Regions from separate parts of the Homo sapiens genome. Here all the other regions are linked to region 1. Evidence: fine-mapped expression QTL. A gene starts in region 1. Each other region holds a variant in brackets. All regions are shown on one strand. Distances are between the middles of the regions.

Region 1 (8,147 bases):
AGGTCCAAGAAATGTGGAATGGCATGTTACACATCTCACTGATGCACACTGGGGAGGCTGTGGGCCACGTGACACCCATGCCATATGCAGCCTCCTTCTGTATTTTTGCAGCGAGTCAGATTCTCCTAGGAGCTACGGACCATGGCACCGGCACCATCTGAGTTAGTGACAGTCATTGTCTGATATCCAGGCTAAGCCACCAAGATGGGAAGCTCAGGTTGGCATCTGAGCCAGGTTACCAACCTGAGGAGCAGCCTGGTGCCATTTCAATGGCCGATGACATGCGGGGAGGGGCTGACTGTGTGGCGCCCAGAAGACTTGCTTTGACAGACCCCTTCCTGGATACTGTATGAGTGTGTAAAAAGCAAAAATTTGGCTACAGCTTGTTACTTGTCCTTGATTTCTATGTGATTGTTTGATAGGAAGGTGCTATTAATACTTTCTTATGATTGGATTCTTTCCCTTAGAGATAATTGGATCTTACTTCGCCTTTCTTGCACATGGATTTGAAGATGAGTTCCCTAGACATATTTTTAGGTTTAAGAGCTAAACCTAAACCTTCATAGGCAATGAAACATCAAGGCCCAGAGCCAATTCTTTTCCTTGTCAAAAACAGAACTTTAAAGATATCTTACAGATATCTTTTTCAAATAAGTTCTGACACTCTCAAGATTAATCCTACACAGCATTTAGGCAATCTTATGCCACCCTGGCAACAATTTGAACTCAAACACTGACCTTGCTCTTTGAGGTTGAAAGGCCCAGCTGTCAGTCTATTTTGCCCATTAGAGCTTGATCTAAAAGAGATTTTTAAATTTTTTCGTACCATGAGCCCTTTTTGTAGTCTCATGAAACCTATTTGATTCAGAATAACATTTTTAAGTAGCGTAGGGTTAAAAAGGAAATGAATTATATATTTTTTAGAATGTATTTTTAAAATTATGATATTATGTGCTTTTTTATTAACATACTAAATTACATATCTTAAGTATTACCAACATTTTGAAGTCAGGGTGAATGTAAATATTTCTAGATATGTGCAACAACTGTAATGTTATCATAAAATTTCTGATTTTTATTGGTTACAAAGTCACAGACACTATACAGATATGACTAATAGTATTGGGGCTTGTTGCCTATATTCTGGATTGAATAAAATTCTAAATTTCAGTTAGAAATTAGTACAAATAGAGATTTTTTTTCACTGAAGTTCATGCAACCCACTGAGTTCCATACATGGGTACATTGGTGTGGGCCCGGTTAAGAACAGTAGCTAAGCTAATACTTTATGAACTGTGCTCTGTGCAACTCTAGGGACTCATGGAAGGGGACATTTTGCAGGTGGTTAAAGCTTTGGGTTCTTTTATAAAACTACCTAAATGTTTCATGAGGCACTCATTTGCAATCCATTTCCTTGTCTTATTTTGTTCCCAAACCGCAGATTCATCTTCACATAGCATTGTTCCCCAAGTACAAGCTAAGAATGTGCCAGGAAATCAACTTGAACACTTGATTAAGATGAAACAATTGCAAATAAATAAATGTTCTGTGAGTTTAGAGGGTTTGGAAACCCAGGCTGAAGGGATATCCGCCCTCCCCATGACTCCCGGATACTTTTGGTGGCAATGAGCCCATACAGATGACCTTCAAAGTTTTAGACAAGGACAGGAGTCCTTGGCCCAGCATAGCACAAGGAACTATTCAGCATGCCAGGGAGTGGAGCTTTAAGCAGACACAGAAGTGTGGTTATGGGTTGCCTTGGGGGCTGCTGAAAGAAAACATTTCTCCACGTCTGAAGACTTGACTTTGCTGTCTACAAAAAGGATGTTAGACCTTCAGTTTCTTTTTTATGGATTTATTTCTTCTTCTCTTTTTAAACTTAATTAAAGCTGCCCACCATTTCCCTGTCTTCTGTCCATTGCACCCTTCCCTGGTGTTAATTTTCTTCTTTGGTTACTATTAGTGCCAAGATTTTGCTGCCACTTACCCCATCCCTGTCCTGGCCTGCCGCCCCTATACAAAAACATTGAGGTAGGAGTGTTGAGACAGGAGAGGATTTAACAGTTTAGTCAGGGAGCAACCTCAAGGAGAGAAAAATAAATGATAAAAGACTTCTTAAAAATTATTCACAATTAACAATGGAGAGAACACTGAGATTGAAGTAATTAAAGGGGGAAGTTTCACTCTTAAAAATCTATATATAACCATATCATTGGAATTTGTTTCTACATTAAGCACAAATTATTTCTGTATTTAAAAAAAGGAAAATTAGGCAGAATTGGCTACTATGTTGTCATTATTAAAATTACTAGTCATTTATGAGTTCATCTCATTTAGCTCATCTGATTTTCTGCAATAGTAACTATAGTTCCATTTTTTCCAACCATGTGCTTTTCTTATCCATTGAATAAACAAAAAGGAAATCAATAATCCTCTGCTGATCTTTTTCTTTATGACTTTATCTCAGCGCCCATTTATCTGCCGCCCCACAGTTTGTGTTATCAATACATGAAGGATGACTGCAACCTCCTGCTTATGATGTCACCAATCTTAGCTTTTCAGCCCCATGTGTTGGGATAAAACACTGACCCTCCTTAATTACTTTATTTTCAAAGTAAACATATCCCCCCCTTTATTTTAGTTGCTTCTTATCTCCTAAATTACATCTCTGCTATTGCCGCCGGAGACCTCACAATGTCTTTGGACTTCTGACCAAACTTATATTTTTGGTAGTGCTCCAAACATTACCAAAACGAACAAACATGGAACAAACATGCTGCTAAACCAGTCTGAGAGCCACTGCAGGCCAGGCAGAGTGGGGAGTCTATCCTTCCTCCTGCAGGACTTGTGATCCTTGACTCCAAAAAATGAGGGTGAAAAGGCACAAAAACTCTCCTCCCTCACTTTATTCTCAGAGCCAAAAATTGGCTGCAGACATTCTGTGTGTTTTTGTATCCACACCACACATGATGTTGGCACCATGGGTGTATGTCTTAAGAATGTTTTCCAAACAGCCACCATCTGGATCCAAATATGAGGCTTTACTCTCTCAAAACTTTTTCCAAGAATATGAGAAGGAAAGATGACAATTACCTGCCCTGTCATTTCCTAGAAAAAGCTCTGTTTTTAAACTGAACCAAAGAAAAACCACAAACTTTTGCACCACAGCCAATATCTAAATGTGTTTGGTTTCTGAGTGTCTCAAATTTCTTAAGTTAAAATCCATTAATATACAAATCCACCCTCCACCCTCCTCACACGCAGGCACACAAACCACACTGAGCTACTCACCGGACAATCTGTCAGTGGGTCCCTCATGTTGAAATGTGTCTGGCTTTTGTCCTTTCACCTACGCTCCAGCATTCTGGACACTGTAATCAAGGTTGGGTGTGTCCTGGACTTCCGGGATTCAAAGGGCCTAGAGTACGTCAGTCCTTGTCAAACATTCCAAGGAGGAAGTCCCAGCCCTGGACTTTCATCCCGTTTGTGTCCCGAGAAAGTAAAGAACTGCTCTGGGTCAAGACGGCCAGTGTGAGATAGTGAGAATGACTTCTGTAAACCCTCAGAGGGCAGGATCCTGAGTCCTGAACAGCGTAACATTGAGAGAAGGCAGAGAAGCTGTAACATGTCTCCAACAATTCTTGCGCTTGGTCTGACAGTGCAGGAACACATATCCTCTCAGCCTGCAGTATTAATCATGCTTTTTATTTTCTGTATTGTATGATGCTTTGACCTTTGGGGACCTCATGGACTTGGAGACAGACTGCCTCTCTGAGGGTTAGCTAATTCCTAGAGAGAGCAAACAACTGGCCTGTGAGCACTCCTTTAATATGCAAACCAACAAATCCAGAGCCCAAACCTCCCCACCATCTCTGTTACCCAGTTCTCAAATACCAAGCCCATATTCCCCCACCCCCTAAATCCCACAGGGCCAGACACCAAACAACTAGGAACCTACACCTATAGAACTATAACTATAGAATGTTCAGAAACAGCTATCAGGAGCAAAGCGTACATTAACCACTTCTCTGAGCCTAACTCCACACTCGCTCCAGCCCCAACAGGATCAAGAGGCTAAGCTTTCAATGTAAAGAAAAAATTGCCTAGATCTGGCCTCATTTTTCATCACTCAAAAGGATAGACAGAACAAGAACTCAACCACAGCTTGAGTTCTATTGCATTCCCTGTACCTGTGGTCCCAGTTGCCAATCATTAGATTTCCAATGAATGGCCTATTGATGTACGACAGCCATTTGCTAGACTGTGGACAGTTCTGTTTGACTGGCAGGCAAGGGCAGGCCCCAGTTTGAAAGGAGCTCCATCAACACAGTCCAGTGGAACACTTCAGAGTTTAAAAGCATTCAGTTTTCACCTGACTGGCTGACTCAGCCTCCATTCACCTGCCCCTGGTGTGCAGGCTCCATTCAAAGTCCCTAGAAATAAGCCAGTTGCAGTGGCTCATGCATGTAATCCAAGCACTTTGGGAGGCCGAGCCTAGAGGGTCACTTGAGGCCAGGAGTTTGAGAGCAGCCTGGGCAATATAGCAGGAGATTCCTATCTCTATAATTTTTTTTTTTTAATTAGGATGTGGTGGTATGTGCCTGTAGTCCCAGCTACTCAAGAGGTTGAGGCAGAAGGATTTCTTGGGTCTAGGGGTTCAAAGCTGGGCAATAGAGTGAGACTCTACTTCTAAAAAAAAAAAAAAAAAGCTTCCAGAAACAACGTAGAAGAGTCAGGGGACAATTAAGGAAAAGAACTTGCCTTGCAACAAGAGTGGAGAGGAGGGGTCTTTTCCACACACTTAATGCCCTCCCTCTTTGCTTATCCAAAGAACTTGATCACTGGAGGTTACAACAATCTTGGGTAGCTACCACAGGGCTAGAATTAGACAAAGCAACTCTGTATAATAAAAGAAATTTAGGTAAGGCACAGTGGCACACACCTGTAATCTTAGCACTTTGGGAGGCTGAGATGGGAAGACTGCTTGAGGCCAGGAGTTCGAGACCAGCCTGGTCAACATAGCAACACCCCATCTCTTTTTTTGTTTTTTTTTTAAAAGAAATTTAGAGACAGGATATAGACTGAGGTTAATAACATGTAACTCAAATTCCCACTTGAGGGGGCTTCTCTGCCCTCAGAGATTTTAGATAAACTTGTCCGGAGCCACCATTCCAGGACTTGGGACAGCTCAATGTTTTCTCTGTGATTCCTGCCCCATTTTTCTTGCTGTTCTGTGTTTCATTTCAGTCCCAACTGAGTCCAAACTGAGGAAATTGGCCTCCCTTGCCAGTTTCCATAAGAAGTGCTGTCACACAAAGCCTACTGTGATCTTTGTATACGAATTATAGATTGGTAGGGCACTCCTATCCCCAAACTCCTCATGTGTGCCATTCCCAGTGGGCTGACTAGCTTTCCCTCAGACCTCCTGGACATCTGCTGAATTAAAATCCTTCCATCTTGCTCCTGTCTGCCACTGGGCCGTTGTAAGGGCAGCAGGGCATCCCAGCTGAATCCAGACTGAGAATTAGAACTTGGCTATTTGTTGAGCTTCTCGGAGGAATGTTTGAATGTGCAAAAAGCCTTGATTTTGGAGGTCAGAAATAGGTTGGTATCGTTTATCCTTTGTCACAATAATGCTGTGTAACAAACAGAAACCCAGTGGCTTCAAATGACAGAGACTTTATTTGGTTCACAAATCTGTAGTTTAGCTGGATGGATCTTCAGGTGTCCCCTGACCTCACTCATGTAAAAGCAGGTCATCTACACAGGGCTTGGCAGAGCCATGCATCTGGGCTTTTCTGGGCAGGGGGCTGGCTGGGAGCTAGCTGTTGGCTGAGGCCGTATTTCATCAGCTGGTAGTCTAACCAGGCTCTTCTCAGGGTATGGCAGAGGAGCCACAAGAGTGAGTGGAAGAGCTCGAGGCCTCTGGAGGTACAGCTTAATATGGACATCCCATCATTTCAGCCACATCCAGCTGATCAAAGCCAGTCATGGGCCAGCCCAGATTAAAGGGGTGAGGAGAGCTTCCACTTCATAATAGGAGGAACTTAGTGTCCCATTGCAAAGGGCATAGAGACAGAGAGGGGCAGACAATTGGAGTTAGTTTTCCATTCAATTTACTACAATGGCTGCTTAATATTTGTTCTTGAATGACTAGAGATAAAGCAGCAAGGACAAGGAGCAGGTGGCTGGTATATGTCTTTCTTTCCCTCTCCCCAATCCAGCCTGGGGTGACACGTTTTGAACCTCAGCAGACTGGCGTTAGGAAGAGAAATAAGAGGACCTAAATCATAAAAGACTCTAGACGGATAAGGGCTGTTCTCTCCTCTGACCCCACATTCCACCCTACACATACTCTGCTAAGGAGCACAGCAAAAAGCACCTCTCCTGGATATGGGTTGTGAGGAGGCAGCAGCAGGGAGAACCTGCTAAGTTGTCTTCAGCCACTGAGGCTCAGGTAGGTGAGGCATCTTGATGAGAAGGATAGAGCAGACCACAGTGAGCACATTTGTCCCCGAGCATGTGAGAATTCCTCCAGTCCCCAAAAATGGCCCAAGGGGACTTTGGGAGGAGGAGACTGAGTTCCCATGTGAGTAAGAGGAGCAAAGAATCTTGTAGTTTTGGAATTAATATTAACAACCTCATTTGTACCTACAGGTTGATGAGAATGTGAACCTAAAGGAAAGAACAACTGAGGCCAACTTAATATAAGTAGAGCATTTACTTGGGCCAAGCTTGAGGGCTGCAACCCAAGAGCATAGTTTCAAGTGGCCCTGAGTATACGCTCTGGTTAGCAGCAGGTACAAGTAGGTTTTCAAAGGAAAAGAAGAGGAAGAGGAAGCTCCTGAGTTGTTTGCCAAGAATTTCCATGAAAATAACACAAGCTGTTGATTGGCTCTACACTGTTCTGTGAATCACAAATTCCAGGACCATAAAGATAGCAGATGAGGCAGCTAGTCAGGAACAAGATGCCTTTACATGATTGCTTCTAGGTGTGGGTTCAAGGAGGCAGAGCAAGACTTGAGCCCCATACTCCCCTCTCTGGGCCTGATAAATTTTGCATACCTCATATAGCTCAGACTGCTCTAAGCCATTTTTCTTCTCTCAAGAACTATCTTCTGTCTGTCTGTCTGTCTGTCTATCTATCTATCGATCGATCGATCGATCGAAGCATCTCCTCCAAGAAGGTATGCCATTCACACTTTCTGAAAATTTTAATGCACAAAGAGTCCTTTTGAGTTCTCTGTTCTCAGATTCGTCTCTGGTCCTACATTTCTGACCCGCACTCATACTCTGGCTGCTTTCCAGCCTGGCTTCCGGTTAGATTTACTGTCTGACCTCTCCTATCCTAATCTTCCTGCTTTCTTTCTCAGTCTCTGCTCAGCATGTGCCTTCCTGGTATGGCCTCTCTGCAGAAAGAAAACCTGCAACGGATTCCCTTCCAGGGTCTGGCCTGGAAGCTGCTCTGCTGGACTCCAACTTTGACATTTTGTGCTGCCTCTAAGGGGAGTTAACAACATGAGTACGCATTTATGAAGTATTCACAAACAAATATTGGGTGTTGGTAAGCTAGTAAGAAAAAGGAGCCCAAATGTAATAGAAGCTCATGGCAATTCAAAACTTGCCTTGGAAGTTTCTTTAGTAGCCAAAGCGTGCAAAGAATTGGCAACAGCATGAACATCATCAATTGAGACCTAGTTAAATACTTTATGGTAATATGAGCCCACATTTAAAGGACATACCACGTGTCAGGCACCATTCTAAGTGTTTTACAAATACAATTGGCTCTCCATATCCCTGGGTTCTGCATCTGTAGATTGAAAATAATAATTTTAAAAATAACAATAAAAATACAAATAAGTATTTATGACTATTTATATAACGTTTACATAGCATTAGGTATTATGAGTTACCTAGAGATGATTTAAAGTACATGGGAGGATGTGTGTAGGTTATATGCAAATATGACACTATTTTATATAAGGGACTTGAATATCTTTGGATTTTGATATGAGGGGGTATCCTGAAACCAATGCCCCATGGATACTGCGGGATGACTTATTAACTTATTTAATCATCACAGTTATCATTTGAGGTAGATATGTATTATTTTGATCCTTATAATACCCACAGGGCAACAGAGGCAC
Region 2 (8,147 bases), 59 kb before region 1:
CCGATTGATAAGAGTTTTAAGGAGGTTCTGCTTCAAGGATTTACTTGGTAGTGTCATTTTCTGCACTTGATTCAGATGAAGCCAAATGTATCGAACACCTGTGTATAAAGCAGGCATAATCCAGAGGATACTAAAAAGAGTAAGATAATGAACAACTGAGATATATCATAAAATAATTGCTTAAAGACAGGATTGGCTGGGCGTGGTGGGTGACGCCTGTAATCCCAGCACTTTGGGAGGCCAAGGTGGGTGGATCACAAGGTCAGGAGTTTCGAGACCAGCCTGACCAACATGGTGAAACCCCTTCTCTGCTAAAAATACAAAAATTAGCTGGGTGTGGTGGCGCACGCCTGTAATACCAGCTACTCAGGAGGCTGAGGCAGGAGAATCCTTGAACCCGGGAGGCAGAGGTTGCAGTGAGCTGAGATCATGCCACTGCACTCTAGCCTGGGCAACAGCAACAGGGCAAGACTCTGTCTCAGAAAAAAAAAAACAGGATCACAGCCAGGCACGGTGGCTGACAGCTGTAATCCCAGCACGTTGGGAGGCCGCGATGGGCAGATTAGGCAGATTACTTGAGGTCAAGAGGTTGAGACCAGCCTGGCCAACATGGTGAAACCCCGTCTCTACTAAAAATACAAAAATTAGCCAGGCATGGTGGCACACGCCTGTAGTCCCAGCTATTTGGGAGACTGAGGCAGGAGAATCACTTGAATCCAGGAGACGGAGGTTGCAGTGAGCTTGGGAGACTGAGGCAGGAGAATCACTTGAATCCAGGAGACGGAGGTTGCAGTGAGCTAAGATCACACCACTGTACTGCAGCCTGGGTGACAGAGCAAGACTCTGCCTCAAAAAAAAAAATAAAAAAAGATCACGTTGGATCATATATCCTTATGCTGCCTGGCTCACTTTCTATTTCTATGTAGCTGATGGATTGTCACCAAACTCTTTCTTGGTGTCCGTACTTTGAGGGTTTCACATGCTGGTGTTTTTGATTGTTTGGCGTGTTGGCTGCTATAAGTATGTCTCACCAACAGTCTTTTCTTAAGATCAAGACAATGTCTCTGCATTATCCCTGATTTCACAGGCCAAAAGTTTAACTCACTCACAGCTTTGCACAGAAATGTAACTCCCCATTCAAAATGTAACTCCCCATTCAACAACTTAGACAACTTTAATACAACATCAATTTGGAGACAATATTTTTTAAAGCAATGATTCAAATAAAGAGAATTCCATAGAGAATTGGACAAGAAACATGGCTCTTGTCATAAAAGTAGAAAGATCTGCCCCCTTCAGGATCATCTGCCCCCGTCAGGATCCAAGAGCTACTTTTTATTTGGCATCATTCTGAGGTGATTTTTCAGTCTTCCTTTCACTCTTTTCCTCAGCAACTTTCTTTCTAAGACAAAGGAAATTATTAACTCCTTTTCTATCTTTTCTACATTTTCTTAGTCATAAATCACTATTCTTAAAGGACATTATTCTCGGTCTCTAAGTTCTCCCTCGTCAGTAAATTGACATAATCTATTAACAAGAATTCAAACAAATAATGATTTCAAATTGTATTGCCAGCTTCCCTAAGGCTCCAACGTCGTGTTTCATTTAAAGAAACTGCTTAGAATATAAAGTATAAGTAGGCTTTGCAACCAACAGAGAACTGAAAACAAGATAATCAATTTATTGTGAATGATGTAACTTAAATGCTGCATCCATGGGTTCTAGGTGGCATCTGGGAAGTATGTCTGTCTTTTATTCACATAGGAAGAAAAGTAATTGCCTGGAGAGATATGACTGGCAAATGCTGCAAAGGAAACACCCAATAAATAGCAAATGTGTGGTGTCCCTGTCGTTTGGCTACAAAATGTATCTTGATTTTCCATTGGCTCTGGGAGCCATGTCCTTGTCGTGGATAATATTCTTTCTCCCATAACGTTACTCTTTCTCACTAACCCTTCCGTTTCCAGATCTCTGCATTAGCGCTAACATTCAAACATGGTTTCTAACTGGACACATAAAGAAGGTTGAGGCTGGAGACTTTCTTCTTTAATAATGTTGTGGTTTACATTATAAAGCCACTACGTAATACCTTTCCATGTTAAGTAAAACTCTGTGACACAAAGAAGGGGATCTCACTCTTTAGACTGGCTGTAAAAAGCTTTTCTGAGAAGTAAGTGAGACCAGCACTAAGCTGGGAGTCAGCTGACCTAGGTTCTAGAATTTGCACTTACTTACACTAAGTTGAGAGAGGAGGTCACTTCACATTCCTGAATGTCTAGCTTCTAAAAAATAAAAAGGTGGGGTACATCTCTAATCACTTTCCATCACTGACATTCTACCCTAGTGTGCACTGTGATTAGGAGCATGACTGTGTTTCCAAGTTCAAATCTTGTGTTGCCACAGCCTGTGACATTAGCCAAAGCACCTAACCTTCCTGTGTATCAGTCTCCTCTGCTATGAAATGGGAATACCAATAAAACCCTCCAAGGGTTTCATGAATATTAAATTGGACAATAGGCCTGCAACAATGTCTGACACACAGTAAACAGAATAAGCGTTAGCTATTATCATTATGCGAGCTTTTGTTTTAGATGTGCTTATCTTTCAAGAAGGGTGAACTGATTTGACATGGTAGTAACTCTTAAGGCTGCCACACTAAGACAGGGTTTTATTCATGCTAAGAATCTCAATATGGGAAGGCAATTAAAATATTTGAGAATGATTCTTACCCTTTTCCAAATTCAACTCATCATCTTGCCTGGCTTGAAAAGAATACAAGGCCTTGCAAAGTCTGCTGCTGAGCTGGGCTGCACCAGGGGCTGAAATAGATAAAGCTGTAATTAGTATGCTGTGTTAGCAGGCAAATGAATATGAGCTGAAGCTCTTTGGTTATTTAACAGTGTGATGCAGAGTTTCAATATATTAAATTTTTCTCAAAAGGAAAGTTTGTAATTTTATATAATGTTCATTCCTTGATTCAATAACCACTTATGATGCACTTTCTATATGTATGGACTGCATATGTTATATAACCAAAAACTATATTATAATACATGAAATAGCAAGTCTAGAGAAAAACATCATTGTATAATAATAGTAATTGCATGCATGTTTTGGAAAACATTCACCAGTTTTGCCATTCAGGTATAAATACGGGATATTTGGGGCATGTGCATGTTATCATCATCCCTAGCTGTGTATGGAACTGTTTCTCAAACAATGCAACAGTGACTCCTTAATATATTGTGTGAACCATAATGTCCTGGTTTTACTGAAGTTCTTTTTTTTTTTTTTAAACCAATTTCTAATTTAAAAAACTAGATAGTCAAGATTATGGTAATTATACTTGAACATGCAGGTACAGTGACACGTGTGTGTGTGCTGAAAGATGAAGAGCAGTGTGGTGTGTGGGTGCATGAATGACTGAAGTCAGATGGCTGCTAACAGGAGTTTGTAGGCCATGAGTCCAAGCCCTGGCAAACCACCTGGATCACCATGTGTCTCGCAGAGAGGACAGGCTTCTTATGGGAGTTTGGAGGAGGCTATGGAGACAGAGCGACAAAGCTCCTCACGATGGTTTAGGTGTGATTATGTTTATGGCAAATAACAGGCCATTTGAATAAGGTGGATGCCAGTCATCTGATATCTGAGGCAACTTCTCATAGGATACTTTCCCAACCCTCTACTCTTCTTAACTTTTTCCCATTTTTACATAAAGCTACAGAGTCTAACAAATTAATCGGTCCC[A/G]ATGGAAATATAAATTTCCTTAAACAGATACAGGTCAAAGTGGCTCTGAAACTAAAATTTAAATGTAGCAATGTGCCCTGCCAGTAGGACCCAGGCCAAAATGATTGTGGGCATGGGATTACCTGGAGTTGAAGAACCTGGATTGCTCTGCCCACCAGAAGATGCCTTGCTCACAATATTCTCTAATCTCTTCATTAAAAAAGGCCGAGATATTTTCACATAGCTATGAGTATGCTCCTGTTCAAATGACATAAAAAGTCATATTTTGTAACACGATTATCATAAACATTCATGAAAATTAACTCTTCTGTAGCTGTTTTCCTCAAGTTGTTTTTTCTGTTTGTTTTTTCTTTTTTTTTTTTAGACAGAGTCTTGCCCTGTCACCCAGGCTGGAGTGCAGTGGCATGATCTTGGCCCACTACAACCTCCACCTCCCGGGTTCAAGTGATTCTCCTGCCTCAGCCTCCCCCGTAGCTGGGATTACAGGTGCCCACCACCATGCCTGGCTAATTTTTGTATTCTTAGTAGAGACGGGGTTTCACCGTGTCAGCCAGGCTGCTCTCGAACTCCTGACCTCAGGTGATCCGCCTGCCTTGGCCTCCCAAAGTTCTGGGATTACAGGCATGAGCCACTGCGCCTGGACTGGAAGTTTTTAAACTGAGGGGTATAAATAATTCAAAGATTTCTAAGCCCTACTGTGTTTCAGTTTTGAGTTGAAGCCTTAATATTTTCACAATTACACAATTACTATACTTTATAGCCTGTGTTTCCAATTCTAACCTATGTGTCTAGGTCAAATAGTAATATTCATAGCATTACTTTTACAAATACAACTTTAGTTGGCTTAATGCAAGTGAAATGATCACAACCCTGTAAATGATTGAGATTGTTTTCGAGCTCTTGAGCCTTAGAAAACTGTCCCTTCACAAGATGATTACAGTTCCCCCTTCTGATCAGTAATAAAAATAGCTACAAGCATTTCAGAGCTGTACTGATGCATTATCTGCATTAGGCACCATCTTAAACAGATGAGACTAATACATACCACAAAATCTTATAATTTAGGTCTGAACGAATATTAAAATTTCAATTTAATAGAAATTTTACTGTAAAAGCACATCCAAAGGATGAAATTCAGGTATGATGAGAAAGAAGAAATCAAAAGTGTTTTTTAGCTTCTCATAGAAGTTTGGTGTACACAGAATGTATTCGGTTTTGTCTAGCTCTTGTTATTGTGCTCAAAAGAAAAATAAAAACATTTATCTTCTTAACTAACTGCATGAATATTAATATCACATAGAATTCCTAACACCTTTTTTGCCCTGATGCTACTTTAAGCCACTCCACCCAGCAGGCCCAATCAAGAAATTACAACCAGTCTCCTTAAATGTTACCTTTTCCCTCCACCTGAAGATGGAATTACTACAAGGATGGCTGGGTTGAGGTCTTTGCTCAAGTTCTGCTAACATTGATGACAGTTTGTAGGAGTTCGCTTCCAAAAGGTCTAGTTTCAAATTGTTCTGTGGATACATCATTTGGCCATGTGAGCAAATTTCTAGTAAATGAGGCACAACTGGATAGGAATATCAGAATAACTTTCAAAATAACAAAGGTTAGAAAAGTACGCATTTAACTCATACAGATATTCACAGAAAATGCCGAAGGAAAAAAAAATGGAGGAATAAACTCTTTAAGCAGTTTAGAGGGAGGTTTTAGTTGTTGAGTGTGTCTCATTCTGTACTCTGGGGGTGAACAGGAAACCTTGGTAATATATTAGTATTTTATGGCAATGAAGAGGTTTTACTCAATTTTCTGCTGAGGGACAAGAAAGGGGATAAGTGTTGATTGTAGAAGGTAGATTTTTGGTGGTCTGCGAAGAAGGTGAGCCATCAGTGCTAAATATTGTGAACAGAATTGAATTAACATCAATAGACGCAAATGAAATTGAATGTGAGGTTTGTTTGTTCTTTGATAAGGTGAGGTCTTATATTACCCACAAAGTTTACAGGAATACTTCTGGAAACTGGGAACAATATTTTAGGGCATTTGAGTATAAACATAATAAGTCAAGCTAAAGATACACTCCTAGTCTCTGTCTGTTCTTGATATGACCTTGAACTAGAAACTTTATAATTACCTTGTCAGGCTGGGTCCAGCCAGGGTGAATTAAATAACAGAATCTAAGCATTGGAAGGGTCTTGCTTATCCAGCCCCCTCCTCACCATTATCCCTCTCTCCCCCACACCTCCAGCATGGGAATTCCCAACCCTAATATCCCTGCCAGGGTGTCACAGCCATGGACAGAAGACATCCAATTGATGGAGAAAGTCTCTAATCGTTGGAGGAATCCACTGCATTGTGGGGCAGGCTTACCTAAGACAAAACTAAAAGCTCCCCCATGCTTTCTACCATTAGACCTTCACTTGATAGTCTCATAGAGCACATCTAGTTCTTCTTCTATGTGGCCCTCTTTCTGGTCTCTAAAGACAGTATTTAATCTAAGTGCCTCCAGTTTTCTCAACAATTTTTCTTATGACACTGCTTGTGAACATTCTTGATTCAAACATGGCACTTCAAGGACCAAGATATAATGAAATAAGGAAGAATGTAAATAAAAGTTTCCTCATCCTAGAAACCTTCCGTGGGTGACACAAAATCTACCAGTATCACTAGTTTCTGTCTACCCAGATGCAGAGCATGCGTAATGAAATCATGTGGATATTTGGCATTCCTCACTTAAAGGTTCATAGTTGCTCCTTCACCAGATCATAAACATTGGAAGTTCCAAGGTCAGATGCTCTCCCTCCTTGTGTCCTCCACTGTGTGCTTCAGGTGAGAGGACCCAGATGATCCTAATACATGTATGCTGGTAATGACAATGACAAAATTCTGTGCAAGGACAGCCAAAGGAATAGATGTATAACCCAATGGCATCAGTAGTTAACTAAACAGCTTGTGCGGTCACAGAAAATGTCCTACAGTCTGTTTTATAATTTCATAAAAACTGTAGCCACGGGTCATTGCAGGTATGTTAGACCTCTGTTACCCAGTGCACACAATGCAGGCTATTTTCTTTTACAAGAAGTGTTAGGCTTGTTTCTGCAACAGCACCTTACTCAAGAAAGCCTATCTAAAAACTAGGTCAGCGATACCTCACTGCATCTGTCTTCTTTCACCAAAGAACTATTGAAATTGCCAATCTGGGTACAATTATCAAGTACCTACCTTCACAAGAAAGTTAGGCTATAAGCAAGAAAAACAAAACGCCCAGATTCCTGTACCTTCAAAACATTGCTAAAAAATTTATCTCCTTAAATGATTCTCAGATTAACCCCAGTCCACTCATGATCTCTAATCACAGCAGAAACCCATATGTTGCACACTGGTGCTATATATCTGTTCATTTTTATTCCTGTGTAAAATTCATCAGCTTTTTGTTAACTATCCCTTTCCCTTCCTCTGAAGTGGCCAAAATGTCCATCAATCCCCACGAATGTCTATGGGGCTAGAGTTCACACACTCAGCACAAAGGCCAGGAGGCCCACCTCCCTGCCTCTTCTACCATCTCCCCACCCCAATTCCCACCCTTAAAGAACTTTGCCCTCAAAGTTGCTCCTGGTTTCCCCAGATTTTGCCTCACACACCAGACTGCCCTATTCCCTCTGCAACCACGTCTTTCCTTTCCCCTGTTATTCTCCGATAACCCTGAGATCAGCAGAGGGATGAATGGAAAATACCACCTTAATAAAAATTACTAGTTTTTGAGCTCCTCCTGTGAGCATTGTGCTGGTATTTACTAAATAATATTTCACCCTCACAAAAGCCCCATGAGGTAAAGTACCAATATCCCCATTTTGCGGATGAGAAAACTAAAGTTGACCCAGGTCCCTGTAAACAGCAGAGCTAAATCTAAATACAGGCCTTTCTGAATGCAGATCCTTTGTTTCCTGTCGCTTTTCTTAACTGGGTTAAAGTGCACATGGTTTCTAGGCCCTTAAAGAACGACTCTGTTTGGAGAATACTATTTTAGACACAATTCTTTTCCTAGGACACCAAAGCAAACATTTCTAGGTAGTTGTATTTTTCCAGATCCCTCAAATGACTTATGAAGCTGACCCTATAAGCTCCCCCACTAGATTGTTCTATGTCATGAGAAAGGAAAGGCAAACAAGGCCAAGTGGACCAGAAACAAGTATTCTAAAAATAACCCTTTTCATCACTACATCTAGGAAATGCACTCGGCAAACATTTACCTCATCCATTAACGCTGCTGTGTCTTTCTGGCTCTTTGCATCAGAGAAGGAGGAGGTGCTGGAGTACGTTTTAAGCATTCGTTCCAGGCCTGAAAATGAAATCATGTTCTCAGTCACCTTTCACACTGTCTCAGTGGGACACAGCCA
Region 3 (8,000 bases), 81 kb before region 1:
CATATGACTGCTATTGCCCACCACTAAGGAGACAACAGTGCATAAAGTATAATCTACTCACAATATTGTGGGGGATATAGATAGGGAAACCACAATTAAAATATATTGTTCCAGGCTCGATGGCTCAAGCCAAAGTAATCCCAGCACTTTGGGAGGCTGAGGCAGGAGGATTGCCTGAGTCCAGGAGTTCAAGACCAGCCTGGGCAATATAGTGAGACCTTGTCTCAATAAAAATTAAGGAAAAATTAGCCAGGTGTGGTGGTGGGCACCTGTAGTCCCAGCTACTCAGGAGGCTGAGACAGGAGGATCGCTTGAGCCCAGGAGATTGAGGTTACAGTGAGCCGTGATCATGCCACTTCACTCCAGCCTGGGCGACAGAGTGAGACCCTGTCTCCAAAAAAAAAAAAAAAAAAAAGATTGTATTCGTTGTTAGAATAATGTAATAGATGCTGTGTGAGGATAGAATCTGGAGGGTTTGGTTCTTCCAGTGAGGAATGCAGGATATTTAATAGCTAACCATTACCTTGTATACCATGTGCTAAGCCCTGTTCTAAGCTCTTTGCATATATTGACTCATGAATCCTCACAACAACCCTAAGAGGTATAGATACTGCTTTTTTATGACAAAATAAGCACAGAGAGGTTAAGCAACTTTCTCAAGGTCAGATAGCTGATAATGAACAGAAATATGATTTGAACCTGCGGTCTGATTATACCACACTACTTTGGAGAAAATCACATAAAGGAGGGTTAGGGATGTTCAACAGAGTCAGCATTACATTCTGGGAAGAGGGAACAGCACATGGAATATGGCAGGAACATGAGAGCTTGTTAAGTTCTGGGATGGCTAGAGTACCCTGTGGATGGGGAGTGGTGGAGAAGTGGCTGGAAGAACTCGTTGGCCAGATGATGGACATTCCATGTTGTGCAAAGGGGGTTAGACTTTGTTTTTCAGGAGATAAAGAGTTGCTACAGGATTTCAACCTGGAAAATGATATTGGATTTATATGCCAGAAGAAGCAATCTAGTAATCATGCACAATAAACAGGAGGGGAGTGAGATTGTTGTCCATAAAGAGACCAGTTAAAGGAAAAATTTAGTGTAATAGTACAGGCACATAATGAGTATGGCTTGGACCAGTGACAGGTCTGAAGAGTTAGACTCAAGACTGTGGGCCTGAAGGTGAGAGTATGCTGTGGTCTAGGATGATTCCTTCTGACATGGAGTATGAATCAGTGGTGATGCATTTACTAAGTGAGGGATTGAAAGAGAGGAGGAGCATGTTTTTATAGGTGGGAAGGAAACATATGTGGGTTCAATTTTAAACATGTTGGGTGAATATGCTGAGTTTATTGTGCAGCAAGTCTTCAGGTGGCGATATCTGATAGGCAATGGATATATTCATCTGGAAGCCAGCCAGAAAAGTGGTCTTTGCTGAAGATAGGGATTTGTGAGTCTTTAGTGTATTTAGGGGGTTGAAGCTGTGGAAGAATATGTAGAGTGAAAGAAGGTAGCCTTGGTTAGTAATAATATTTATTTACTCATTACTGTGTGCCAGGTACTGTGCTAAATGCCTTACATTGACCACCTCCTTCAGTCCTCATGATAGTTCTCCAGGGTTGGTATCATTTATTATTATTATTCCTACTTTTCTGATATTGCAGTCCCAGAGAGATTATGATTTGCCCCAGATCATCAGATTAACTCCAGAAGCCTTACTCATCTTCAGAGCATTACATTTCCTCTCCAATTTGAGAGAGTTAAATGGAAACGACCAGGAAAGACAGAATTCGTAATTGGAGAACAGAGGAAGTAAGAGAGAAGGTCACCAAAACTAAAAGAGGAGAGAAATAATAAAGGGTGTTGTTAACACTGTAAGTCACAGGTAGATCCAGTAAGGTAAAGATTGAGATAGATATTTTGGGAACAAGAAAGATGGAAGGAATTCATTCACTGACCAAATACTTGTTGAGCTACTGCTGTATACCAGGTAATCTTCTAGGAAGATACTGCAGAGAACAAAATAGCCTAAAGTTCTGGAGCCATAAATTCTAATTATCACAAGAAGGAAGATCATCTATTGAAAGTGAGAGGTATTTACTATGGGCAGGCTTTTACATTATTATAAATCCTGAAGTCTGTCTAAGACAGAGATTATCCCTGTTTTACAGATGAGGAAATTGAAGCTCACTGAGGTTAAGAAACTTGCCTAAGGTAAATAGAGGATCTAGGATCACAATGATAGTGTCTGTGCTCTTTCCATTGTGCTATACTGACGTGCATTGGAGTGAAAATGCAAAGAAGGGTTCCTCTGGTGTGTAGGAGTGAAAGTTTGAAATGTCGGTCCTGGGAATAAGACAGCCTGCTATGTACACATGTAATAATAGTCACACAGCAGGCCAGGTGCAGTGGCTCACACCTGTAGTCCTAGCAATTTGGGAGGCCGAGGCAGGCGGATCACGAGGTCAAAAGATCAAGACCATCCTGGCCAACATGGTGAAACCCCATCTCCACTAAAAATATAAAAATTAGCTGGGCGTGGTGGTGAGTGCCTGTAGTCCTGTCTGCTCAGGGGGCTGAAGCAGGAGAATTGCTTGAACCCAGGAGGCGGAGGTTGCAGTGAGCTGAGATTGCACCACTGCACTGCAGCCTGGCGACAGAGCGAGACTCCATCTCAAAAAAAAAAAAAGAAAAAAAAATGGTCATACAGCATCGAGGACTCCTATATTTGTATTGGCCACAAATCACACAGTTCTTCAAATGTTATAATAAAAACACTCTCATATGTGGTATTTATGTGTCACTAGTTTAAAAGTTTTTGTATTATTATTACTGGATACTCTAACCCCAGTGAATGAGGTAGCCAATGTTATCCCCATTTTACAAATGAGCAAAAGAGTTTCAGAAGTCGTGATTTTGACCGAGATCTTTGGGTAAGAACTGATAAGCTGAATCAGACTTGAGACCTTTGACTTTCAATCTGAATTTCTTGTGTAGTACAATTCTACTTAATTTTTTTCTTTAAATAGTAGCATTTTTCTTTCTAGTAAGATGTTTATTTTTAAATTATACTTGACGTAATATATGATCATGTTCATATTCTTAGAACATACAGAAAAGCAAAAAATATCACCTGTAATGTTGAGAACCATATTTAACAAAACAACTTTCTAGCTTTTGTTTTTCATGAGCTATGTAGGTTTTTAACGTAATTATATTCATGGTATCTATATAACTATCTTTTTTTTTCAACTTTGAGAATATTTTCCCACATTGCTAAATTGTTTTGAAAATACATTCCATCTTATCGATATACCATATTTTAAAAATCATTTGCTTGTTAGCCATTGAAGATGTTTTCAGTTTTTCATTATAAATACTGAAAAATAATTTTTATATATAAATATTTGCACGTATCCTATTTCCCTAGGGTAACTTTGTAAAAATGAAATTGCTGGGTCAAAGGAGGTAAATATTTTTAAGGCTCTTTTATTTTACAATGTCAAAAATATTTTCTAGAAGGACCCTAGCATTTTGCATTCCTCTCAATATTAGTAATTATTTCTGTAAACATTGTTGTAATAAATGAAAATTGAAATCTTACTGTTTTACTTGCATTTCTGTGATTAATCTGAGGTTAAATTATCTTTCATATTTATTAGCCATCTGCATTCTGTGTTTCATCTGTTTATCCCTTTGTCTGTTTTTTTCTTAGGAATTTGTATTTGTGTCTTCCTCTTGAGATTAAAATGGTAACCCATTGTTGGAGGAGGATAATTTAATGGGCAAAGCATTGCCTTTGAAGTCAAGACCTGAGTTTGAATGCAGTCTGTCTGTCTGTTTATTTATTTATTTATTTATTTTTGAGACAGGGTCTCGCCCTGTCACCAGGCTGGAGTGCAGTGGCGTGATCGCAGCTCACTGCAACCTCCGACTCCCTGGTTCAAGCTATTCTGCCTCAGCCTCCCTAGTAGCTGGAATTACAGGCACACGCCACCACGCCCAGCTCATTTTTGTATTTTTAG[C/T]AGAGACGAGGTTTCACCATGTTGGCCAGGATGGTCTCGATCTCCTGACCTCATGATCCGCCAGCCTGAGCGTTGCAAAGTGCAGGGATTACAGGCGTGAGCCGCCATGCCTGGCCCTTATTATTTATTTTAGCCTAGCAAATACAGCTTTGGGCAAGTTACTGAACTGCTGAGTGTTTTTCCTCTTCTTTTAAAAAAGTAGTAAAAGACTAAAGAATTTATTTTGGATTTCGGCACTGTTTAGAGAATAATCTACCTCTTGAACATTGATTTGATATTTCATTTATCATATTAACTTCCTAACTGCCAACGTTTGTTTGGCATATCTTTTATAATATTTAGAAGCATAAAATATCTCTTCATATATCCAGATCAAATATGTGTCTCAGACAAGCTTTGCAGTTTTTTTCAAACAGAGCCTACATATTTCTTGATCTAGGTTGATTCTGAATTTTCTGTTTGTTACCTCTGTAAACGAGATTTTCCTGTTGCCTGAGGAATGCTTGTCTTGAGAGATGTTGTTCAAGCACTGAGAATTCCATGCTCACTTCAATTTGGGAAACATATCATAGTGTATTTCTCTTTTGAAGATTTATGGTATTTAAAGTCTTCATAAATTCAGTGATGGACTAACTTGTTTAACTTTGAGAAAAAGATTACTCATCCTTGGAGCACATATTTACTTGTAATTATGATACTGGAATTAAATGACAGTATAGATAGTTTGGTTTATTTGATACAATTCTAGACTACTGGCATTAATTGGCATTCGATTTTAAAGTGTTTAGATTTCATTTAAGTATTAGTAAAACTAAATCTTTAATTCAGAAATTCATAAGCACATTATAAAGCACCACTTGAGCTCTACTGGCTCTGCTTATTTGACCTCAGTAGCCTCTGCCCTAGAGCTCTTATGCTTTTTGTGCCTTCCTGCTTTGTCTAGCCCCCTGATTGGCATTTTGGGGACACCATCTCTGTGCAATGGGCCCCAAGTAGCAGCGGTTGTATCTTTCTTCCAACAAACAGAGGAAGAAGTGGTCCTGCCAGGGTTACTCCTTTCCCAGCAGAGAGGTTTGGCCAGGTTTATGCACAGGCATTGTTGTTTTTATTTTGAGCATGTGTGTGAGAAAGGGGTGGGTAGTTGCAGAAGCTGAGTGTTTAAGAGGGCTAGGGCAAGAAGAACTTGTACAGAGAGTGACAGGGACATGGGGAAGGCAGGGAAGGTAGAGAGATTAAAGCCAAGAAGGAGTAATGAGGTGCTGGCCAATATGTGAGACAGATGTAAAAGGCCAGTATTTTGGTACATGGATACCTTGTTTTATTGCACTTCACTTTATTGCACTTTACAGATATTGCAATTTTTACAAATTAAAGGTTAATGGCAACCATGTGTCAAGCAAGTCTGTGGGCACCATTTTTCCATCAGCATGTGGTGACTTCGTATCTGTCACATGTTGGTAATTCTCACAAGATTTCAAACTTGTCATTATTATATTTCTTGTGGTGCTCTATGATCAGTGATCTTTGACGTTACTATTGTAATTGTTTTAAGTGCCATGAATGACACCCATATAAGATGACAAACTTAATGGATAAATGTTGAATGACTTCTGACTGCTCTGCTGACCAGCCATTCCTGTCATTCTTCCTCTCCTTGGGCCTCCCTAGTCTCCAGTATTGAAATTAGGCCAATTAATAACCCTATAGTGACCTCTAATTGTTCAACTGAAAGAAGGAGTCATAGGTCTCTCACTTTAAATCAAAAGCTAGAAATGATTAAGCTTAGTGGGAAAGTGTGTCAAAAGCTGAGATAGGCTGAAAGCTTGGCCTCTTGCGCCAATTAGCAAAAGTGCTAATTCAGTGAACACACGAATGATAAGAAAGAGAAACAGCCTTATTGTTAGAGAAAATTTTAGTGGCCTTAATAGAAGAGCAAACAAACCACAACATTCCCTTAAGCAAAAGCCTAATTCAGGGTAAGACTCTAGCCCTCTTCAATTCTGTGAAGGCTTGAGAAAGATGAGGAAGTTTCAGAAGAAAAGTTTGAAGCTAGCAGAAGTTGGTTCTTGAGGTTTAAGGAAAGCAGCTGCCTCCATAAAATAAAAATGCAAGATGAAGCAGAAGTGCTAATGTAGAAGCTACAGCAAGTTATCTAGCTAAGATCATTGAATGAACAGATCATTAAAGAACGGATTTTTGATGTAGATGAAAAAGCAGTTTTCTATTGGAAGAAGATGCCATCTAGGACTTTCATAGCTAGAGAGAAGTCAAGGCCTGCTTTGAAGCTTCAAAGACAGGCTGACTCTTTAGTGACTAATGCACCTGGTGACTTTAAGTTGAAGCCTGTGCTCACTTGCCATTCCCCAAATCCTAGGGCCCTTAAGAATTATACTAAATCTACTCTGCCTATGTTCTATAAATGGAATAGCAAAGCCTAGATGACAGCACATGTGTGTATAGCATAGTTTACTGAATATTTTAGGCCCACTGTTGAGGCCTTCTACTCAGGAAAAAAGATGGCTTTCAAAATATTTCTGCTCATTAACAGTGCATCTGGTCACTCAAGAGCGCTGATGGAGATTAGTGTTGTTTTCATGCCTACTAAGACAACATCCATTCTGCAGCCCATGGATCAAGGGGTAGTTTTGACTTTCATGTCTCATTATTTAAGAAATAAGGTTATAGCTACCCAAATAGTGATTAACTCTGATAGATCTGGGCAAAATAAATTGAAAACCTTCCAGAGAAAGGATTCACCATTCTAGATGCCATAGAACATTCGTGATTCACAGGAAGAGGTCAAAATATCAACATGAACAAGAGCTTGGAAGAAGTTGATTTTAACCCTCATGGATGACTTTGAGAGGTTCAAGACTTCAATGGAGAAAGTAACTACAGATGTGGTAGAAATCACAAGAGACCTAGATTTAGAAGTGGAGCCTGAAGATGTGACCGAATTGCTGCCATCTCAGATAAAACTTGAATGGATAAGGAGTTGCTTCTTATGGATAAGCAAAGAAAGTGGTTTTATGGAATGGAATCCACTCCTGGTGAAGATGCTGTGAACATTGTTTAACTGACAACAAAGGATTTAGACTATTATATAAACTTAGTTGATAAAGTAGCGCAGGGTTTGAGAAGACTGACTCCAATTTTGAAAACAGTTCTACCAGGGGTAAATGCTGTCAAACATCATTGTATGCTGCAGAGAAATCTTTCATGAAAGAGTTGATTAATGCAGCAAACTTTATTGTTGTCCTATTATAATAAATTGCCACAGCCACCCCAACCTTCAGCAGCTACCACTCTGATCAGTCAGCAGCCATCAACATCAAGGCAAGACCCTCCCCCTGCAAAAGTTTAGGACTTGCTGAAGGCTCAGATGATTATTAGCATATTTTAGCAATAAAATATTTTTAATTAAGATATGTACATTTGTTTTTTAGCCATAATGCTATTGCACGCTTAATAGACTACAATATAGTGTAAAATAACTTTTCTATGTACTGGGAAACCAAAACATTTGTGTGACTTGCTTTATGGCAATATTCGCTTTATCACAGTGATCTGGAATAGAACTTGCAATATCTCCAACGTATGCCAGTACTTAAAAATAGCACAGAATAGCAAAAACTAATAAAACCAATAAAAACAAAGAACAAAAACGAATATTGCAGCTATTAATATTAGTATAAACATCTATTCTTACCTATGTATTAATCACTGGTGTTATGTACAAAAACTATTGATTTTTTTGGGGTGTAGTACCACAAATTCTGATAGGTTTTCAGTAGATTTTTCTGAGTATTCTAGATAGATGTCTATTGTCTACATATAATGAAAAATAGTTCTTGTTTTTTCCTTATAGTTTTACCAGCTAAATATCTTGTCTTGGCCAGAAACTTCTAGGGAAATATTAAATAACAGTGCTAACTGGCATCTATTTTATTCCTTTTGGAAATGCCAAATATATAT
Region 4 (8,147 bases), 100 kb before region 1:
TGCACAAAAAACATAAAAAAATATTAAAATCCAAGCAATGCATGTCATTGAAAAAAAAAAGTGTTAGCAGTATTGAGTTCTAGGAATCCTTGAATGGTTTGTTCCTGATAATCAGACTGAAATTTGGTTATATAAATGCTAAGGAACACAGAGAAATGAGGCTTTGAAAGAAGAAGTAAGTGGGATACCAATGTGGAAGAAGAATAAACAAGAATTTGGTAATGTAAAGGTAAGAAGCACACACTCAGTAAAATTTTATAGATGAAGAAAATACTGCAGTTATAAAAACTAAAAAGGAGTTATGAGAATTTTTTTCTTAGAAGAAACATATTTTTTCAGGTTTGGTCATTGGAGGCAGGAATACAGTATAGAGAAAAGGTGAAACTGACCTAGATTCCTACTTTGAAAATTGTCTGTAAATAGAAAATGCTAACTTTTTTACATTATAGCACCTTTTTATGTTGTTGTTTTGGGTTGGGCAATAAATACATTAAGGCATACAGGTCACAGTCTCATTAGAATAAACTTTTAAGACACCCAAATTCCTTTAGTTGTTTGTTTTTTATATTATCCAATACTACTCTAACAAGTGGAATATGTGATAGATCTTGACTTTTTTTATTTTAGAAAACTTTTTAATAATGGCATATGTTACAGTATTTTTTTAAGGTTAACTTGCAAATCTAATTTCAAGTCACCTAATTTATGGCTAAATTGGTACTCAGGATTGTTTTAATGACAAAGTATTTCAGGAAAGAAGAGAAGGAAACAACCCAATTTCTAAGCAACTGTGAGTAACCTTTAAGTTCTAGATCTTTCTAAACATTAAGAAACCTACTAACATTAAATCTACTAACATTCAAATTTAAGTTTGCTTCCAGAATGTTTTTAATTAAAAAGTTTGTGCTCTCTATAAAGCTGGAATATATGTTACTGAAATCAAAAGCATTGGCTATTCGAAGAAGGAAGCATAATTTTACTGAATAAACTGATGCAGTCAAGGAGAATGATGATTCTCAAAACTTCCAGTTAATTTTAAAGCAAGGGAATGTGCATGCAAAAATGTTTCCTTATGCTGTATAATTTTAGACGACTTATTTATGAGTTATCAAAATAATTATTGCATTTTGGAAACCCAGAGGCACATTTAGCAAGTCATTAATCAGTTAAACATTTCCAACTTGAAAAGTGGAAATAGCTATGAGCTAATTAGGCTATTATCTTAAAGCAAAATATTAGTTTTCTATTCATTTTGTTATTTTGTCTATGAAAGAATAGAATAAGCACATTTTATTCATTGACTAAAACTGCACTAAAATTAATTTTTAGACAAGACTTTCTGTATTAAAAACTGTCATATTCCAGTGCTACAGAAACTGCAGCAAAGCTGACCTGTGCAGAGTGATAGAGAACTTATCCATCCCACAGACAGTGTGGCTCAGGGCAGCGGTTACCATGACATACCAGACACAGGATGCGCCCATTGCATGGCCAGATGGACTTCCTGCAACAACAAAGTGTCCGTCCATTTGAAAAGTGGTTAACTATCAAGATCAGAAATGAATAATAGAATAGCATATTCCCCATGAAAATTATGAGTAACTCAGAAAAAAAGACAAGACACAGGCTATATGTAATGTTTAGAAGTGGGTAGAAATAAGAAAAATTGAGTTAAATTGAGCCTGAGAAACACTGTCTCAAAAAATTTTTTTCCCAGATTTTCAGGTTCATTGAATTCCAGAAATCAATATACTCAAGGCTAATTAAGAACTCAGGCAGTTGCACCCAAATCTGCCACAGCCCTACTCATTCTTCAATATTTGGTTGTTTTTAATTGACAAGCAAAAGTATTAGGTTAATGCAAGAGTAATTGCGGTTTTTGCCATTGAAAGTAATGGCAAAAACCGCAATTACTTTTGCACCACCCTAATGCTTGTATTGGATCTTCAGTTGGCTTATTTTCCTTGGGCTGAGAAGTCAAACTCTAAAGGATATCATTGCTATGCCAGTGATTTGCTGATTGACTTACAAATGACTGCTGTGTACTAGCAGCTACTTCTATGCCTATCTTGTGGCCACTGCAGTGAGAATCTTTGTTTTAAAACAGAGGATGAGGAGAAGCTATAAAGACGGCATTAATCCTAGCAGAAAAAGCCTTTCTACTTCCAGAATGCCTTTTCCATGCTACTGAATTTTTTATTAGTTTCCTTAAATGTCCTCCTCGATTTTTCACCTGGTAGTTCATTCAAATTAAATACCAGTCTCTTATTTGTTAAACAAAGACAGACCTATTTCTTATCTGCAGGAATTTTCAGAGCCTTTTAAAAACTATGCCTTAAAAAATTGTAAATCTCCCCGAGAGATGCAGTCTTTCTTTCTTTTCTCTCTCTCTCTTTCCAGAAAATGTCTTATAAGGTGGAACACATGCCGGAAAGGACTGGAATTGACCACGATAACATTTCGGTGGTCTCAAATGTTACCCATCCAACCATTCATCCATTTATCACACTTTGGTTTCACAAAGATAAACTATGCATCATCCCTCCCCTGATGGAACACCCAGTCTAGGCAATCGGATATATAAAGAATTAGTTAATATCATTTAGTGTAATAAGCGATATAACAGATGTATGTATACTTCTATGGGAACAAAAAAGACATATTCAGAACACTCATTAAGAATTTACACATTCTCTACTACCCTTTACTCAAAGTTAGTTTCGAAGGATGTCAACTGGCGAGAATGTTATGCTATGTAAAATGATGAGGTACAATATAACACATTCTTATAAATTAAAATGTAATTTTTAAATATATGTTTCAAAAAACTTTTTAAAACAGTCTTAGAATCAACTATCACAATAAAGATTTTATACTCATACAGAATCTTACCTAGAATAAAAAAGAAGTGGCCCAAGAAGCCTACTTGTGTACAGAGAAAAAATATGTTTTAAAGAGATTGTTCTAGGGTTAGAAATAGTCTTTACTGGCTATAGTAACATTGAGAAGTCCTTACCTTTCTTACAGAAGACTTGTCTACTCCTCCCTCATTCGTGAGATACTCGGAAGACCTATAGTAACTTTGAAAGTTGCTTAGCAGCAGATTAACCAACATTTCTAAGATCTTAGTCTAGTTCCTTGAGAATTTGTTCTAGTTAACTGTTTCTTGTTTTAGTATCAAGTCATTATATTCTTCTGAAAAGTAAACACCAAATATTTAATCACTGGGGGAGTTTTCTCCCAATCTACCCTTTCATAAATAACAAAATGGAATTTGAGTATTTTTTTTGCTTTGCTTCCTCATTAGTAATTTTGATTGTTATGAAGTTTTAGCATCCTCACTCATGAGATTTTCTTTACTACCCTATATAATATCAGTTCCTAGATGATAACCCTGTGTAATGATTCTCTATTGGAAGATCTTCAGTAACTGGAGCCTGCTGTAATAGCTTACCTGGACCTGTTTCACATGTAGTAGGGAACTGTTCAAGGCATGGACTTGAGTGATTTGGGTAAATCTGAGTTTCTTGGACCCACCAGTAAGGTCGATGACCAAATAATATCCTGTATTTAAAGAATTATAAACATGCATATATATTTAAATACACAGCTATTATTTAATTGGAGATTAGCAATTCTTTCCTATAAAAAATGACTCAAGCGCAGGGTTAATTGTGAAAGTTCATGATTAAGAGACTTTGAAAAAACTTAGGTCTTGGTCTCTCACACATTATTAAAGGTGGTAGCCATTTGGTATTTTGGCACCCTGGTTTCCCATGAACATGGGGGCTTTTTTCCCTTGCAGGGAATGTCTTATGGGTGCTTTGGATACTTAGACTGGAAATATCAAAATTTGTCCCTAGAATTATCAATTTGTTCATTATCACGCTGCTCATGTAAGTAATTCTTAATCACAGAATATGTGTTACAGGGGTTTGGGAATTACTTATAAGTCATTAAAGTACACATTTCTGGCCTGGCGTGGTGGCTCACACCTGTAATCCCAGCACTTTAGGAAGCCGAAGTCGGTGGATCACCTGAGGTCGGGAGTTAGAGACCAGCCTGACCAACATAGAGAAACCCTGTCTCTACTAAAAATACAAAATTAGCTGGGTGTGGTGGCACATGCCTGTAATCCCAGCTACTCGGGAGGCTGAGGTGAGAGAATTGCTTGAACCTGGGAGGCAGAGGTTGCAGTGAGCCGAGATCACGCCATTGCACTCCATCCTGGGCAACAAGGGCAAAACTCTGTCTCAAAAAAAAAAA[A/CA]AAAACAAAAACATATATATACATTTCTGTGCCTTTTAAAAGTTCTACTTATGAATCTGGTGTTTCAAGTTACCTGGTATTTTTGAAAGATTTTCCAAGTAAAACGATATACATCTGAAATGTGATCATTATGCCGAAGTCACAAATTTAAGGATAAATCTTAGGAAAAAATGAAATAAAACAGAAATCTTACCATTTAAATATAAGATTTAACCAATCCCCAATGACTGCTACCCATATCATCTTGGTTCCAACTGTCTGATTAAATTGAAAACAAAGTGGAAAATAAATGAAAAAGATATTCCTGGGGTCTCCAACATTGGACATAAAATTTAGAAAAGTGTAGTAAGCTCGGTAGTCCTTCTGCAAATGCTGAATTATGAGCACTCCATTCCTGTGAAGGAAATCCATCTTGAAAAAGAGGCAATTCTAAACATAGAGCAATTGGAGCTGAAGTGCTCTGATTCCCACCGTTTTTATACTGTGCCTTTGTGGCATGTCGAGCCATTACTGCAACATGTGATGCTGACCATCTGTGGAGAGGGCACACCAGCCCTCCTCTGCTGAATAGCTCATCTATTTATGATTTTAATTGGTGGCAAAGAGTGAAGTACATGCTGATCTGTGGCAATTCGAGGGGGAAATTTGGATAGAAACACAATGAATTTCTTATGCAACCTCCCTTTTGTGCGAACAGTTGGATCATGTTTGCTTGAAATTTTTTGTACAGTTCATTTCCTCCAAGGTCAGACATTAGCAATTTCTATGTTTGGTGAAAAGACTTTGCAAATAATTATTGCATGTCAAATAGCCCATAAAGCCCTGCATTTTAATTTAAGATAGGCTGTGGCTCTCTATTTTATTGGGTCTTTGAGGAAAATGGTTGAATAAATATCTGGGTATGAAAAATATATGATATGACAGATTATGTTCTGATCACTGATTTAAAATAAGAATAGTTCAATTTTCTTTATCCAAGAGAATGATAGAATATATATGGAACAGGGAAAGAAATGTGTTGTTTTTTGACTATAAGACAAGAAAGCAGAAATGAAAGTCATTTGGATAATAGAAATGTGTTAGGATCAAATTGTATCTTTTATTAACTAGAGAATACAGTTGAGAGGAATAGGGAATGATTCATGTGACAAAGATAGGAATAGACATCAAAGGGCTTTTGACCAATCAGGAAAATGGTTTGTTGAGAACAGAGTGTTAAACAGAAGTGGAAAGCACCAAACAAATGCTAAGAATGAACAGAAGGGTAGCGCAAAGAGGCTGTGGATCTAAGTCATAGGTCCATAATCTACGGCTGTGGACTATGACTAGACTATAGACCAGGACTCTGGTCCTGGACTATAGACTACGACTGGACCCTGGACTATGGACCAGGGTAGACTGAGAATGAACAGAAGGGTAGCACAAAGAGGCTATGGATCTAAGTCAGAGAGATGTTGGGTTTAGAGAGCTGGATTGTGTCTAGGATTAGTGGGAAAGCAACAAAGCCTCACAAGGTGGCCAGGGATGGATCTAGGTAACCTTACTTGTTATTTTGTCATTCAGATTTTTGTCTTTGCTTACCATGGCCTAAGTAAAGACAAAAGACTTCACTAGAGTCCTTCACAGGCTATAACTATCACTTTGAACTTCTCTTCGAGTTTTGTGTCCCATCATTTAACAGCACCATTGTTACTGGGCTTCAGTGTCTATTGGTACCTTACCTGGAAGAAATGCATTGACTGACCATTAACATCTTTTGGGGTGCTTTTTAAATTGCCATAACTGTGTTCCACCTGAGATCAGTTATATTTCTGGTAATGGAATTTGGGCATTGGTATTATTAAAATACTTCTCAAGTGGTTCCAATGTGGTATAAGGGGCTTAGAATCATTGCACTAAGGCAATTCATATAAGGAATTATCCTTGACTAATTAGAGTCTATGCTTCTGGCTTTTCTTTGTTTTGCATATTCAGGTTCTGTAATTTCCATAATCTCTTTAATGAGCCATGAGGAAGAGCATAACTTCCCTTTATTCTTTTTCTAAAAAGTGTTTGATCTACGTAATTCATAATACTCATTTTCTTCAGAAATGTCTTATCCTTAAATCAGGATGTGAATGATATCAAATACATTTTGTCTTCCACTTAAAAATTAAACTTCCTGCTCTTCAGCACCTCAGAGTCTGTGATTAGCCTTTCATCTATGGTAGTTAATTTAGAAAGATTTTCTCTCGAGAACTACCTGGTTCTGTAGACTGTGGGATAATTAAGTGAAGCAAAAGCATCTTGATTTCTTTCACCCTTTAACAGCATCTGCTAATCTGCTTATTCCTCGTAGTTCATCATTTTTAGTCTTTTCATATCTTAGCTTCTATGCATCCATCGGTGATGCCTTCTCTGACCAGCATCCTCACCACTCCTCTGACAATACTTTCTCTCACACACTCTTTTCTCCTAGGGGGTTGTTTGAGTCTGCTAGGGCTGCTATAACAAAATACCAGACTGGGTGGCTTACACAACAGAAATATAGGAAACTAGGAGTCTGAATCAACGCGTCGGTGGCGTTGATTTCTTCTGAGCCTCTGTCCTTGGCTTGCAGATGACTGTCTACTCTCTATGTCTTCACATGGTCTTCCCCGCTATATGGGTGTGTTCTAATCTCCTCTTTTTATAAGGATACCAGTCTTATTGGATTAAGGAAGATACTAATGACCTCATTTTAACTTAATCACCCCTTTAAAGACCCTATCACCAAACACAGTCATTTTGGGAGGTACTGGGGCTTAGGACTTCAACATGAATTTGAGGGAATACAGTTCAGCCCATAACCGGGAGTTAAACACAATTTATAATTATATATTTATGACAAGTGTATATATTTAGCATCTCTCTCCTGTACTACAGTATAAGCTCCATAAAACAAGGGGTCCTGTCCACTTTGTGCAACAGCCACAAGCACAGTTCCCATAACAGGCCCGTGTAGAAGCCAATTACCCATGAAGCTGGAAAAGTTCGCACGGGCGCCTAAGATGGTAGGTTGGGCCGGGCGCAGTGGCTCACGCCTGTAATCCCAGCACTTTGGGAGGCCGAGGTGGGCGGATCACTTGAGGTCAGGAGTTTAAGACCAGCCTGGCCAACATGGTAAAACACCATCTCTACTAAAAAAAAAATACAAAAATTAGCTGGGCATTGTGGTGGGCTACTGTAGTCCCAGCTACTCGGGAGGCTGAGGCAGGAGAATCGCTTGAAACCCGGGAGGTAGAGGTTGCAGTGAGCCAAGATCGTGCCACTGCACTCCAGCCTGGTCTACAGAGTGAGACTCTGTCAAAAAAAAAAGGCAGGTGGTTACTGATAGTTTAGAGTGCATTCACGAGTTTATTTTCTTTTTATTAAAGAGAGGGCCTATATAACAGGGGCTTTATAGAGGGGCCTATATAAAGCCATTTAACAGGGGCTTTAGATTTCACAAAACCTGGAACTGCCCCTGGGCCCATCATAGTTATTTAGTAAATGTTTATTGAGTGAATGAATTATTGAACAAAGTTGATATGAGTACTAAATTATAAAGAGCCTGTGTTTTAAAACTATGTTATTTGGTTAGTGCAAACTCAAAATGCATTTCTCCACAGAGATCATGTTATATAGTGGCAATGTCAAGAAAGTGTATTTAAGGTGGAGAAAATATATATAATGTGTATTCTAGAAAGGGCTAATATATTTGTATGTGTATATGTGTGTGTGTGTACATACATATATAAATATGTATGCAGATGTGTGTATATGTATATATACATATATTAGCCCTTTGTGTGTGTGTGCATATATGTATATATACAATTATATATACATATATAACATATATACACACACATATATACACA

Which allele goes with the higher level. Positions count from the first base shown, and alleles are read on the strand shown. Sizes are in standard deviations (SD) of each study's normalised expression.
For the expression in subcutaneous fat of the gene that starts at base 3,328 in region 1, G is the high allele of the variant in region 2 and A is the other (moderate effect, 0.44 SD a copy in TwinsUK).
With allele T in place of C in region 3, the expression in lymphoblastoid cells of the gene that starts at base 3,328 in region 1 is lower (large effect, 0.93 SD a copy in GTEx).
In carriers of allele A in region 4, the expression in pancreatic islets of the gene that starts at base 3,328 in region 1 tends to be higher than with CA alone (large effect, 0.88 SD a copy in PISA).

What was found. PIP is the estimated chance that this variant, and not a neighbour inherited with it, causes the effect.
Region 2: its variant is the best candidate, but not a certain one, in a credible set for the expression of NOSTRIN in subcutaneous fat (TwinsUK, PIP 0.56).
Region 3: its variant is the best candidate, but not a certain one, in a credible set for the expression of NOSTRIN in lymphoblastoid cells (GTEx, PIP 0.89).
Region 4: its variant is the best candidate, but not a certain one, in a credible set for the expression of NOSTRIN in pancreatic islets (PISA, PIP 0.72).

The regions. Positions count from the first base shown.
Region 1 is chr2:168,797,818-168,805,964 of GRCh38, reverse strand. It overlaps NOSTRIN (nitric oxide synthase trafficking), which reads right to left and starts at 3,328. Exons shown (of 16, transcript NM_001039724.4): 1 at 3,292-3,328. The coding sequence starts at 3,318. RefSeq lists enhancers at 3,385-3,884, 7,212-7,506.
Region 2 is chr2:168,856,632-168,864,778 of GRCh38, reverse strand. It overlaps NOSTRIN (nitric oxide synthase trafficking), which reads right to left. Exons shown (of 16, transcript NM_001039724.4): 12 at 8,001-8,089; 13 at 5,142-5,267; 14 at 3,870-3,984; 15 at 2,730-2,819. It also overlaps a transcript of SPC25 not described here. Among named protein-coding and RNA genes, the nearest start is that of SPC25, 30 kb to the left of the region's middle. The variant A/G (reference allele first, on the strand shown) is at 3,748.
Region 3 is chr2:168,878,466-168,886,465 of GRCh38, reverse strand. All of the region lies in intron 3 of SPC25 (SPC25 component of NDC80 kinetochore complex), which reads left to right. Among named protein-coding and RNA genes, the nearest start is that of SPC25, 8.0 kb to the left of the region's middle. The variant C/T (reference allele first, on the strand shown) is at 4,026.
Region 4 is chr2:168,897,862-168,906,008 of GRCh38, reverse strand. It overlaps G6PC2 (glucose-6-phosphatase catalytic subunit 2), which reads right to left and starts at 4,718. Exons shown (of 5, transcript NM_021176.3): 1 at 4,460-4,718; 2 at 3,455-3,564; 3 at 1,393-1,504. The coding sequence starts at 4,677. The variant A/CA (reference allele first, on the strand shown) is at 4,267.